3 linked regions of the Homo sapiens genome follow. The protein of the gene in region 1 purifies or fractionates together with the protein of each later gene. This does not show direct contact. Each region holds a gene or a part of one and is shown in the gene's direction. Other genes may lie near its edges.

Region 1 (3,753 bases):
AGGAGAATGGCTTGAACCCAGGAGGCAGAGGTTACAATGAGCCGAGATCATGCCACTGCACTCCAGCCTGGGCGACAGAGCAAGACTTCATCTCAAAAAAAAAAAAAAAAAAAAAAGAATAGTTTTAAGGAAGGCAGAATTAGAGATAGACAAGTTATAGGAACCCAGGCAAGCCATTATAATGCCAAACTAAGGCAATGGCAGGAGGGATAGAAAGAACTGGACCAGTTTTAAATCCATTATGGGACAGGAAAGGCATGTTGCAGTCCCTTCAGCCAAGTTGCAAGTTTTGAATGAGTTATCCAAACATTATTAAATGCATCTTCAGTGATGACTACCAAGCTTTTTTCCAGGAACCAACCCTCTTTTGTAAAAATGTTAGGTTAGCCTGTTCGTTCTGGTTTCTTGGGCAGTGACTGGGATGTTCAAACTATTAATTGGGATAGAACACCGAAGCTGGTTAAAAACAATATTTCTTATAGAAATTGATCTTGAACATGGATCAAGGTTCACTGCTAGCAGGAGAATCGGAGAGTGTGTGGTAATGAAAAGTTATAGTTGAGAAAACAAGCGTTTACATCAGCAACTAATTAAGAAAAAAGCAGCTCATAAGTGGATGAATGCAGTTCATAAACACATTATATCAGTTATTACACAGGAAATCTAAGGCAGAATACTGTGAAATGCAAGGTGTATAGCTTATCAACAAGAATGTAGCAAATACACCATTCAACTAAGAAAGAAATGATAAGGCTGCATCTGGGGCTGTTGACTGGAAGCACAAAGTTTCCTTTCCTTGTAGTAGTTCCTAAAGATTCCAGTTTACATGGAAAGACAGAAAGCTGTCACACCCATGGCAGGAGCGCAGAACCCAAGCGACAAATTCTAATTTTGAACAGGCAGGTGCCAGTGCATTTCTCAAACTGCAAACTAAAATGCAGAAACACGATTTTCCTGTTTCTTAGTTTTGGACCGTTTTCCCCCCTCTAGCACGCCAGAGCAGGTTTTAATTGTTGTCAGGTCAGATGGTGAGTTAACTTTGAGTGTTGAGTTGAGGGGCCAGTGGGATGTGGGTCCAGTTGAAAGGTGGATATATGTAGATCCAGACTCGAGTGATATAGGCTGCAAATAAATTGCTAGTGAATTTATGAATTATTAGAAAAGAAAGGACATTCATTATGATTTAATCGCAGTTGAATGTAGGCAGCACAGAGGGCTTATACTGTGTCTTTTTTTTTTTTTTTTTTTAAATATACGGTGTCTATTTTGCTCACCACTCTATGCCCGGTGCCTGGAAGTGCGACTGGCACATAGTAGGTGTTGCATAGTTTCAGAATGAACTTTTTAGGAATCAAAATTCTACAAACATTGCACACAGATTTAACGTTCCCTTATTTTCCAGGTGAGGTCAGGGCGCCCTTTGGTTTCGCGCTTCTGTCCCTTTAAGAAAGTGGAGGAGAAAGAAAGCGCTGCTGGGAAAAAGGGCGGGGCCGCGAGGGGCCGCCGTCCGTCCCGCCCCCTGCCGGGCCGCGGCGCTCTGCTAGAGCGTGGCTCAGTTTTGGTAGCGGGACCCCGGAAATGTAAAGCATGAGCGGGAACAGTCGCCAGGGCGAGTGACAGGCGAGCCCTATGCTTTACTTCCGAGGGCGGTGTCAGCAAAGCTAGGTAAGGAGACAGGGAGGACGGTGCCTGCCCCTTTAAGATCGACTCCACCCCGCCTCTGGAGGAAAATGACGCCGCCGTCTACCCGTTGTGGAACGTAACTCTTTTCATCCCATCAGCTCTCCTTCTCATTAAGAGAAATACCAAGTGGTCACCACAGTCACATACTTCATAACCCATGCCTCATCGGTGCTGGGACGGGAGAGGGAAGCGCCGATCTAAATGACATGGGGTCCAAATCCCAAATAATCTCTATTTGCTCTGCGTTACCTTTAAACTTAGGCTGCGTTGTGTGATTCAAGTGACAGCCTAGTACTGCTTAACAATTAGTCTAGTGGGATACCAGGCCCTGAGAGACCCCTACGATCCCAGGACACTGATGTGGGGTAACTAACACCCACTGGAAGTCTACGCTGAGTTCACAGGCTATGTATGACCTGACATGCATTTTGACCTGCCCTGTGTTTTGATATTTGAATGAGTTGCTGATGTTTACAAGCCGAAGCTGGCCGGGCGTGGTGGCTCGCGCCTGTAATCCCAGCACTTTGGGAGGTCGAGGCAGGAGGATCGCTTCAGGTCAGGAGTTCCAGACCAGTCTGGCCAACATGGCGAAACCTCGTCTCTACTAAAAAAAAAAAAAAAAAAAAAAATACAAAAATTAGCCGGGCGTGGTGGCACGCCCCTGTAATCCCAGGACTCGGGAGGCTGAGGTAGGAGAATCGCTTGAACCTGGGAGTCGGAGGTTGCAGTGAGCCGAGATCACGCCACTGCACTCCAGCCTGGGCAACAGAGACTCTGTCTCAAAAAAAAAAAAAAAAAAAAAAAAAAAGGTGGAAGCTAATGTGTCAATATCTAGATTTTTTTGATGATTTTGAGAAATCGGAGGATCTGGCAGCATGTCCTGCCTAGCCTTTTTGAACTGTTTGAAAACAGTCTCCAGCTTGCCACAGCCCCTCTGTTATTTTACAGCCAGCCTGCATCACTCATTTATGATGTCCAGCCCCTTGTGGGGATTTGGATTTTTGACCCCTAAATACTTTAGTGGATTTAAGACCATTTAAAACATTTATGCAGAAGAGATCCGAGGTCCCCAAACAACTGGGTGTATAAGTTGTGTTTAAGTTGTTCCTCATTCTCATTTATTCTAATCCGGGTGTTTTTCTATATATATATATTTTTAAACAAATCTTAGTGATCAATTGCACAGGTGTTTTTCTGTTGGAGCAAATCTTTTCAGTTTAGGCTTGGTAAAATCGAACCATCAGATACTTTTACAGAAAGAGATTTAGGAGTTGATGTTCTTTTATTACAATTAAATGCATACAGTATTTTTAAAGGAAAAAACCTGAATCTTGATTGCATTGTTTTATGATACAACAATCTTTAATGAAATAGAGTAGTCAATATAATTTGTATTAATATATCTCTGCCCACAGACAATTATAAATTCATTAACCCCCAGAACTCTTGGCTAGACTTCATAAAGGCAAAAACTGTGTTTGCCCTGTTAACTGCTTTATCCCACCACTAGAATATAAGCTTCCTGAAGACAGAAGACTTCTGTTATTTTGTTCACAGTTACCAAGCATGCCTACTTTGTTAAATTTATGAAAGAACTTTAAAGGTACAGTTGGCCCACAATATAACAATATAGCAATATAAAATTACAACAATAAAAATAACACAAAAATAGTGTAACAACTACTTATATAGCATTTACGTTGTATTAAGTATTATGAGTCATCCAGAGATGATTTAAAGTAAAGTATACCACAGCATATGCCTAGTTTATATACAAATATGATGCCATTTTATATAAGGGACTTGAGTATCCTCTGATTGTGGTATCCTGGAAGCAGGGGATACCGGAACCAATCACTTGAGGATACTGAAGGATGACTGTATGGCTGATTTCCTGTAAGAGGCATTTTCTTGAGGATTCTTTCAAAATCAAATGCTTGTATATTTGTTGTGTTAAATTACTAAAAGGATTCTCTTGTGAAAAGTATCATTTAAAAAGATTGGATTTTCCCAATTGATGCACCAAAGCTTTCATCTGAAATGAACTTGCACATGTGAATCATCAGATAC
Region 2 (3,753 bases), on another chromosome or scaffold:
CTTGACTTGATCTATATTGACTATTCTTATTGACTTAAATCTGTGGGGTTTCTTTTTTTTTTTGAGACAGGGTGTCTTGATCTGTCACCCAGGCTGGAATGCAGTGGCACGATCTTGGCTTACTGCAACCTCCACCTTCTGGGTTCAAGCAATCCTCCCGTCTCAGCCTCCCAAGTAGCTGGGACTACAGGTGCAGTACCATGCCCAGCTAATTTTTTTACTTTTAGTAATGACGGGTCTCACTGTATTGCCTAGGCTTCTCAAACTTCTGGACTCAAGCAATATGCCTGCCTCCGCCTCCCAAAGTCCTGGGATTACAGGCATGAGCTACCGAGCTCAGTTTTGAAAGGTAGAAGTGTATGCTACAAGGGATGTAGGACTTGAGAGTCAAGGCCTATGGTCTTGTCCTGGCTCTACCAGTAAGTGTGACCTTCGATGTTTTTTTCTCAAGTAAGGCTGGTAATAATTACCACAGTTGTGAGAATTGAGAATTTGGAAATGCAGTGAAAGAGACTATACTCAAGTCTTGTTCTGGACTAACAGTGATCTTAAAATCTCTCATTTCAAAGAAATAAAGTATTTTGATGATTCTCTTGCATGGTGTATTAATAAACTTGGTATAATGGCAGAAACTGTAACCTACAACAGGTTTACGTTTAACTCTTTTTGTAGGTGTTTGGAGAAGAGGGATTGACCCTGAATCTTGAAGACGTTCAGCCTCATGACTTAGGAAAAGTTGGAGAGGTCATTGTGACCAAAGACGATGCCATGCTCTTAAAAGGAAAAGGTGACAAGGCTCAAATTGAAAAACGTATTCAAGAAATCATTGAGCAGTTAGATGTCACAACTAGTGAATATGAAAAGGAAAAACTGAATGAACGGCTTGCAAAACTTTCAGATGGAGTGGCTGTGCTGAAGGTAACATTCATTATTATGAATAAGTTTCTTGGGTTCTGAGTCCAAGAATGATTTTGCTTCTGTAGTATTCCCCAGTAGTACCATAGAACTAAACGAATACTTGAGGAATTAACTTCATAGTGGAATTTTGTTTGTTTTGTTTTGAGCTCTTCGTCACCCAGGCTGGGATGCAGTGGTGCGATCTCGGCGCACTGCAACCTCCGCCTCTTGGGTTCAAGCGAATCTCCTGCCTTGGCCTCCCGAGTAGCTGGGATTACAGGCACTTGCCACCATGCCTGGCTAATTTTGTATTTTTAGTGGAGACAGGGCTTCACCATGTTGGTCAGGCTGGTCTCAAACTCCTGACCTCAAGTGATCCACTCACCTCAGCCTCCCAAAGTGCTAGGATTACAGGTGTGAGCCACCACGCCCACCTCAGGATTGCTTTTTAAGTAAACTGCTTTTAAATGACTTGGCAATTAGCATCTTGAATGAAGAGGCCATACTAACTGGAATTCTTTTCGTCTTTAGGTTGGTGGGACAAGTGATGTTGAAGTGAATGAAAAGAAAGACAGAGTTACAGATGCCCTTAATGCTACAAGAGCTGCTGTTGAAGAAGGCATTGTTTTGGGAGGGGGTTGTGCCCTCCTTCGATGCATTCCAGCCTTGGACTCATTGACTCCAGCTAATGAAGATCAAAAAATTGGTAAAAAGTTACCTTTTAAATGAGTTTGTGGCCTGATTTTAGTTTTTCTTAGAATAATAATGTTGCAGTCCCCTAAATGGAATAGCACATTCATTTCCTGAATAACAGAAGTAGAATAGTGCTAATGTCAGAGCTAAACATGCATCACATCTTTTTCAGAGGAAATGATTTGATCTGTAGTAGGATTGGGATTTCCCTACATCAATATCCTCACAACTTATAAATGTGTTACAATATTTACAAATGAAAGTATTAAAATTTTGCTGAAATTTCTCTGTAGGTATAGAAATTATTAAAAGAACACTCAAAATTCCAGCAATGACCATTGCTAAGAATGCAGGTGTTGAAGGATCTTTGATAGTTGAGAAAATTATGCAAAGTTCCTCAGAAGTTGGTTATGATGCTATGGCTGGAGATTTTGTGAATATGGTGGAAAAAGGAATCATTGACCCAACAAAGGTAAATGGTTGAACACTTTCTAAAAATTCTTTTGTTGTTCATTTTGTTAATGTATCCTCACATCCCAAATCTTTGATTTTGTCACCAGAAAAATAGTCTAATAGCAGTAGCAACAGCAATAGCTCTTGTGCCCATCAACAATTCTCATGTACATTTCCAGCACCTAGATATTTAATACTCCACTAAAAGGAAGCAGGATCCCTTGAGTAGCAGTTGAGTCCATGCCTGGAGGCAGGAAAAAATCAGGATGGATCTGGAACACCCTGTTCCTGCCTGGCAGTAAGAATACTTTCCAAGATACGCAGAACAGGGTTTTGTTTTGTTTTGAAGACAGAGTCGCTGTGTCGCCCAGGCTGGAGTGCAGGCAGTGACAACCTCCACCTCCTGGGTTCAAGCGATTCTCCTGCCTCAGGCTCCTGAGTAGCTGGGATTACAGGCATGCACCACCATGCCTGGCTAATTTTTGTATTTTTAGTAGAGACGGGGTCTCATCATGTTGGCCAGGCTGGTCTTGAACTCCTAACCTCAAGTCATCTACCTGCCTCAGCCTCCCAAAGTGCTGGATTACAGGTGTGAGCCACCATGCCCAGACAGAAATTTTCAATAAGTCTTGCTCATATTTTACTAAGGGAAAACTAATTAATTAAATTTTTTTCTAGGTTGTGAGAACTGCTTTATTGGATGCTGCTGGTGTGGCCTCTCTGTTAACTACAGCAGAAGTTGTAGTCACAGAAATTCCTAAAGAAGAGAAGGACCCTGGAATGGGTGCAATGGGTGGAATGGGAGGTGGTATGGGAGGTGGCATGTTCTAACTCCTAGACTAGTGCTTTACCTTTATTAATGAACTGTGACAGGAAGCCCAAGGCAGTGTTCCTCACCAATAACTTCAGAGAAGTCAGTTGGAGAAAATGAAGAAAAAGGCTGGCTGAAAATCACTATAACCATCAGTTACTGGTTTCAGTTGACAAAATATATAATGGTTTACTGCTGTCATTGTCCATGCCTACAGATAATTTATTTTGTATTTTTGAATAAAAAACATTTGTACATTCCTGATACTGGGTACAAGAGCCATGTACCAGTGTACTGCTTTCAACTTAAATCACTGAGGCATTTTTACTACTATTCTGTTAAAATCAGGATTTTAGTGCTTGCCACCACCAGATGAGAAGTTAAGCAGCCTTTCTGTGGAGAGTGAGAATAATTGTGTACAAAGTAGAGAAGTATCCAATTATGTGACAACCTTTGTGTAATAAAAATTTGTTTAAAGTTAATAATTGTGTTAGCATTTCCATGATTAGAAGATACTGAAAATTGAAAGCCAGTTGAAGGGCAGGCTGGCATGTGTGTAAAACATTATCCTATCTATGATATTTTCATGTTTCTCTTTGTTGCAGACTGAACTACATTATTCCATTGATAATGGGGAAAGACAGTTTCTATTTTCCCCGGTGCAAGGATGTAATCTCTCTTGGAGCTGTAAAATCTGGGAGGTTGGAGGGAACTCCAGCTCCTCAGCATGGCCTTTGGGCTGCTGCTGCAAGCAAGGCATTGAGGCAAATATTTTTGCTGTCCTTACCTTGGACAGAAGTAGAGGGGAGAAATAAAGTCCATCATCACATGAAAAGTCAGTCACTTGAAATCCTGTACCTAGAATACCTTTGGCTTTGGTAATTTCGTTGTGTTTGGGG
Region 3 (3,753 bases), on another chromosome or scaffold:
ACAAATATTTCAAAAGCTTAAATTTATTGTCATGTGCAGTTTTGTTGTGTTTTACATGGGATTTTAAGTTCTAAAGTTAGGTTGTTAACTAACACTGGCTGGGGGTGTTAGACCCTAACACTGGTCTAGGGTTTTAGACCAAAATCATGTACAATAAGATTAATTCTTATAAGTCCCTTTGGAAGTCAAATTTTAGAGACCAACATACAGCTTTTAGGAGGACTGACACAATTGGCTTTTTTTCTCCATCTTTGGAATATAATGTTGTTTTTTAAGTTGAGCACCAGATGAAATACTTTGTTTGCGTTTAAGGGCTGTGTTGTGTGAATAATTAAACACTAGGGAAATGGTAATAATAATACCAGATTCTTCTGTAACACTTATAAAACTATCTGCCAGGTATTGTTCTAAGTGTTTTGCATATATTCATTTAATCTCCCCTAAACCCATGAGACAGAAACTATTATTTTTATCTCCATTTTAGAAGTAAGAAAACTGAAACACAGAAATTTTAAGTAATTTGTCCGTGGCCACACAGCTGGTGAGCTCTGTGCAGCTAACTACTACACTAGCCTGCTTGCTCATGGTCCTCATTTTAGAGAGCTGTGCTTACACAGTGAGAGATGCACAAACAGGGACTAACTGAAAGAATCGGAGAGTTGTCTCAAGTTTGTTCTAAGGCATATACTCATAAAATGGGATGATGGATATCATCTGTATCATTTAAATTATTTCTTTTTTAAACTTAAATCATTAAATAAGTTAAATACATAGATTATGTGGTTCCACTGTAATTAATATGCCCCTTGCAATTTTGTTCATTTATTCATCTAAATCGTGTGTGTGTGTGTGTGTGTGTGTGTGTGTGTGTGAGAGAGAGAGAGAGAGAGAGAGAGAGAGAGAATGAGTGAATGACAAGCACCTGCTGGCCTTGCTGATCTGAAGCTACATCTAAATCATTTTTTCCCTTTGGGCAGAGCTAAACTTAACCCAAGCCCCTTCCTATGTTATCACAATCCCTAACCAGATTTTGCTGAAATTTTAAAAAGTACTTTGCTAGTGACAATTTAACTATCCTCATACAGCAGACTGAGTTTTCTTGGCTGATGTGGATTATAATGAGGCACAACATTGTGAATTATTCACTAATTATTAACCCTCAAAGGTAGCACAATTTAATCCAGATGTTTATGGAATGCTTATTGTTTTTGATGAATAGAATAACCCTTTACCTTAAGTATGAAGATAGTTTGAAAGTGACAGCCAGATGGAATAGGACTATGATAATAGATATGTCTGCCAAACTATTATTCTATCAGTTTAATTAAAATAATCATTGGAAAGTCTGATTTTCTGAATCAATTTCTTAGAAAATAAAATTTAGGCCAGGCGCGGTGTCTCATGCCTGTAATCCCAGTACTTGGGGAGGCTGAGGCGGGTGGATCACCTGAAGTCAGCAGTTCAAGACCAGCCTGGGCAACATGGCAAAACCCCGTCTCTACTAATAATACAAAAATTAGCCAGGTGTGGTGGCGTGTGCCTGTAATCCCAACTACTCGGGATGCTGAGGCAGGAGAATCACTTGAACCCAGGAGGCGGAGGTTGCAGTGAGCTGAGATTGCACCACTGCACTCCAGCCTGGACAACAGAGAGAGACTCTGTCTCAAAATAAAAAAAAAAAAAAGAAAAGAAAATGTAAAAATAAATTCAGGAAATATAAACAAGTATGTTGTGATAACAGGTACTCAAATGCTAAGAACCAAGAACAATCTGAATATTTACAAATCTGGATAATCTTTCCTTCAGCCAAGAGAAAGTGAGAATAAAGATTTATTTATTTCATTTTTATTTTGTTTTGTTTTATTTTATTTTAATTTTATTTTTTTGAGACAGAGTCTTACTCTGTTGCCCAGGCTGGAGTGCAGTGGCGTGATCTTGGCTCACTGCAACCCCCGCCTCCCGGGTTCAAGCAATTCTCCTGCCTCGGCCTCCCAAGTAGCTGGGACTATAGGCGCGTGCCATCACATCTGGCTAATTTTTTATTTTTAGTAGAGATGGGGTTTCACCGTGTTGGCCAGGCTGTTCTCAAACTCCTGACCTCAGGTGAGCCACCATGCCTAGCCTAAAGATTTATTTTTGTAGGAATCTGGCTGATAAACTGATAACCTCACTAGCAATGTCAGTCCCATCTAGTCATTAGCAATGTCAGTCACATCTAGTTAAGTGTTATGTCTCTAATAAAGGAAATAGAAAGATCCAGTACAGGTCCAATAAAATTAGAGATTTAGATAGGGCCAGAGATAGTAAGGTGTATCATATTTGGTTTCTCTAGTAGATTTTATTGATTAGGAAACAGGAACATAAAGTTTATATGACTTGCCCTAGATCATGTAGCTTCTACTTAGAGACAAAGGAAGGTCCAGAGCTAAAGCTTTCTAACTCCTGGCTCTGCTCTTCTGTTGTATTGCCTTCCCTTGGGTAAAGGAGTATTCTTACATATTTATATAAATAAGGACAGTAAAAAAAATCAATTTCCTTTGCTTGAGGTTCTTTATATAATCATTGTGTGCTATATGTTTGTCACTAGATAATTTGAGATTTTTCTCCTTTGTAGGTAAGACAGAATGTCAAAATACTTAAATTTTTCTATGTCGATATTTAGTTTTAGATAAAAGTTTTTATGGGACATTTTCTTCAAGTAAATTCAAATGAAGCTCAAGTAATTCCTTTGGCATTTTTTTCAGAATTGCTTCAGATTGCTGGAATTAGCCCACATGGTAATGCTTTAGGAGCATCAATGCAGCAACAGGTAAATCAACAAATACCTCAGGAAAAACGAGGAGGTGAAGTATTGGATTCTTCTCATGATGACATAAAACTTGAAAAAAGTAATATTTTGCTGCTTGGACCAACTGGGTCAGGTAAATAACTTGCTGAGAAAATTTACTACTCATTTTAAAAATCAGAATATAAATGATTCTATAACCTGTATCTTGCGATTGAAGTATTACGGCTCTTGAGAAGAAAATCTAAGGCCAGTCATCTAGATACACTATCAGTATTCCTGCATAGAATACAAACTGGATTTGAGGCATTGGTGTTGCCCTTCAGGCCAATCCCTAACATCTTCACAGGAATAATAAAATAAAAAACAGCTATATCTAAATAATAATAGATCGGATGTAGTGGCTCACACCTGTAATCCCAGCATTTTGGGAGACAAAGGTGGGAGGATCACTTGAGGCCAAGAGTTTGAGACCAGCCTAGGCAACAGAGCAAGACTCTATCTCTATAAAAAATAAAGTATTAGTTGGGCGTGGTAGCACATGCCTGTAGTCCTGAGGCTGAGGCAGGAGGATCACTTAAGCCCAGGAGATTGAGGCTGGAGTGAGCCATGATCACAGGCTGCACTCCAGCCTGGGTGACAGAGCAAGAACCTGTCTCTAAAAAAAATAATAGCAGAGGAAGGATGTAGCAATTGACAACTTTTTATTATATACTACTAAAATTTATTTTGCATTTTTATTGAAAAATTGTGTGCCAATATATTTTCAGTAAACTTTTAGTGACTGTTTCTATTTGTAGGTAAAACTCTGCTGGCACAAACCCTAGCTAAATGCCTTGATGTCCCTTTTGCTATCTGTGACTGTACAACTTTGACTCAGGCTGGATATGTAGGCGAAGATATTGAATCTGTGATTGCAAAACTACTCCAAGATGCCAATTATAATGTGGAAAAAGCACAACAAGGTA

Evidence for each region.
Region 2: the proteins of ETFBKMT (region 1) and HSPD1 purify together in Homo sapiens (affinity purification with mass spectrometry; 4 studies listed by BioGRID and IntAct, with this or other methods). This does not show direct contact.
Region 3: the proteins of ETFBKMT (region 1) and CLPX purify together in Homo sapiens (affinity purification with mass spectrometry; 2 studies listed by BioGRID and IntAct, with this or other methods). This does not show direct contact.

The regions. Positions count from the first base shown.
Region 1 is NC_000012.12:31,657,698-31,661,450, forward strand, and holds the start of ETFBKMT (electron transfer flavoprotein beta subunit lysine methyltransferase), read left to right. Parts: upstream 1-1,990; 5' UTR 1,991-2,092; exon of another isoform or gene 2,093-3,286; intron 3,287-3,753. UniProt on the Homo sapiens protein: Protein-lysine methyltransferase that selectively trimethylates the flavoprotein ETFB in mitochondria. Thereby, may negatively regulate the function of ETFB in electron transfer from Acyl-CoA dehydrogenases to the main respiratory chain.
Region 2 is NC_000002.12:197,486,167-197,489,919, reverse strand, and holds the end of HSPD1 (60 kDa heat shock protein, mitochondrial), read left to right. Parts: intron 1-672; coding exon 673-918; intron 919-1,428; coding exon 1,429-1,603; intron 1,604-1,883; coding exon 1,884-2,062; intron 2,063-2,721; coding exon 2,722-2,874; 3' UTR 2,875-3,336; downstream 3,337-3,753. UniProt on the Homo sapiens protein: Chaperonin implicated in mitochondrial protein import and macromolecular assembly. Together with Hsp10, facilitates the correct folding of imported proteins.
Region 3 is NC_000015.10:65,157,743-65,161,495, reverse strand, and holds part of CLPX (ATP-dependent clpX-like chaperone, mitochondrial precursor), read left to right. Parts: intron 1-2,744; coding exon 2,745-2,921; intron 2,922-3,585; coding exon 3,586-3,750; intron 3,751-3,753. UniProt on the Homo sapiens protein: ATP-dependent chaperone that functions as an unfoldase.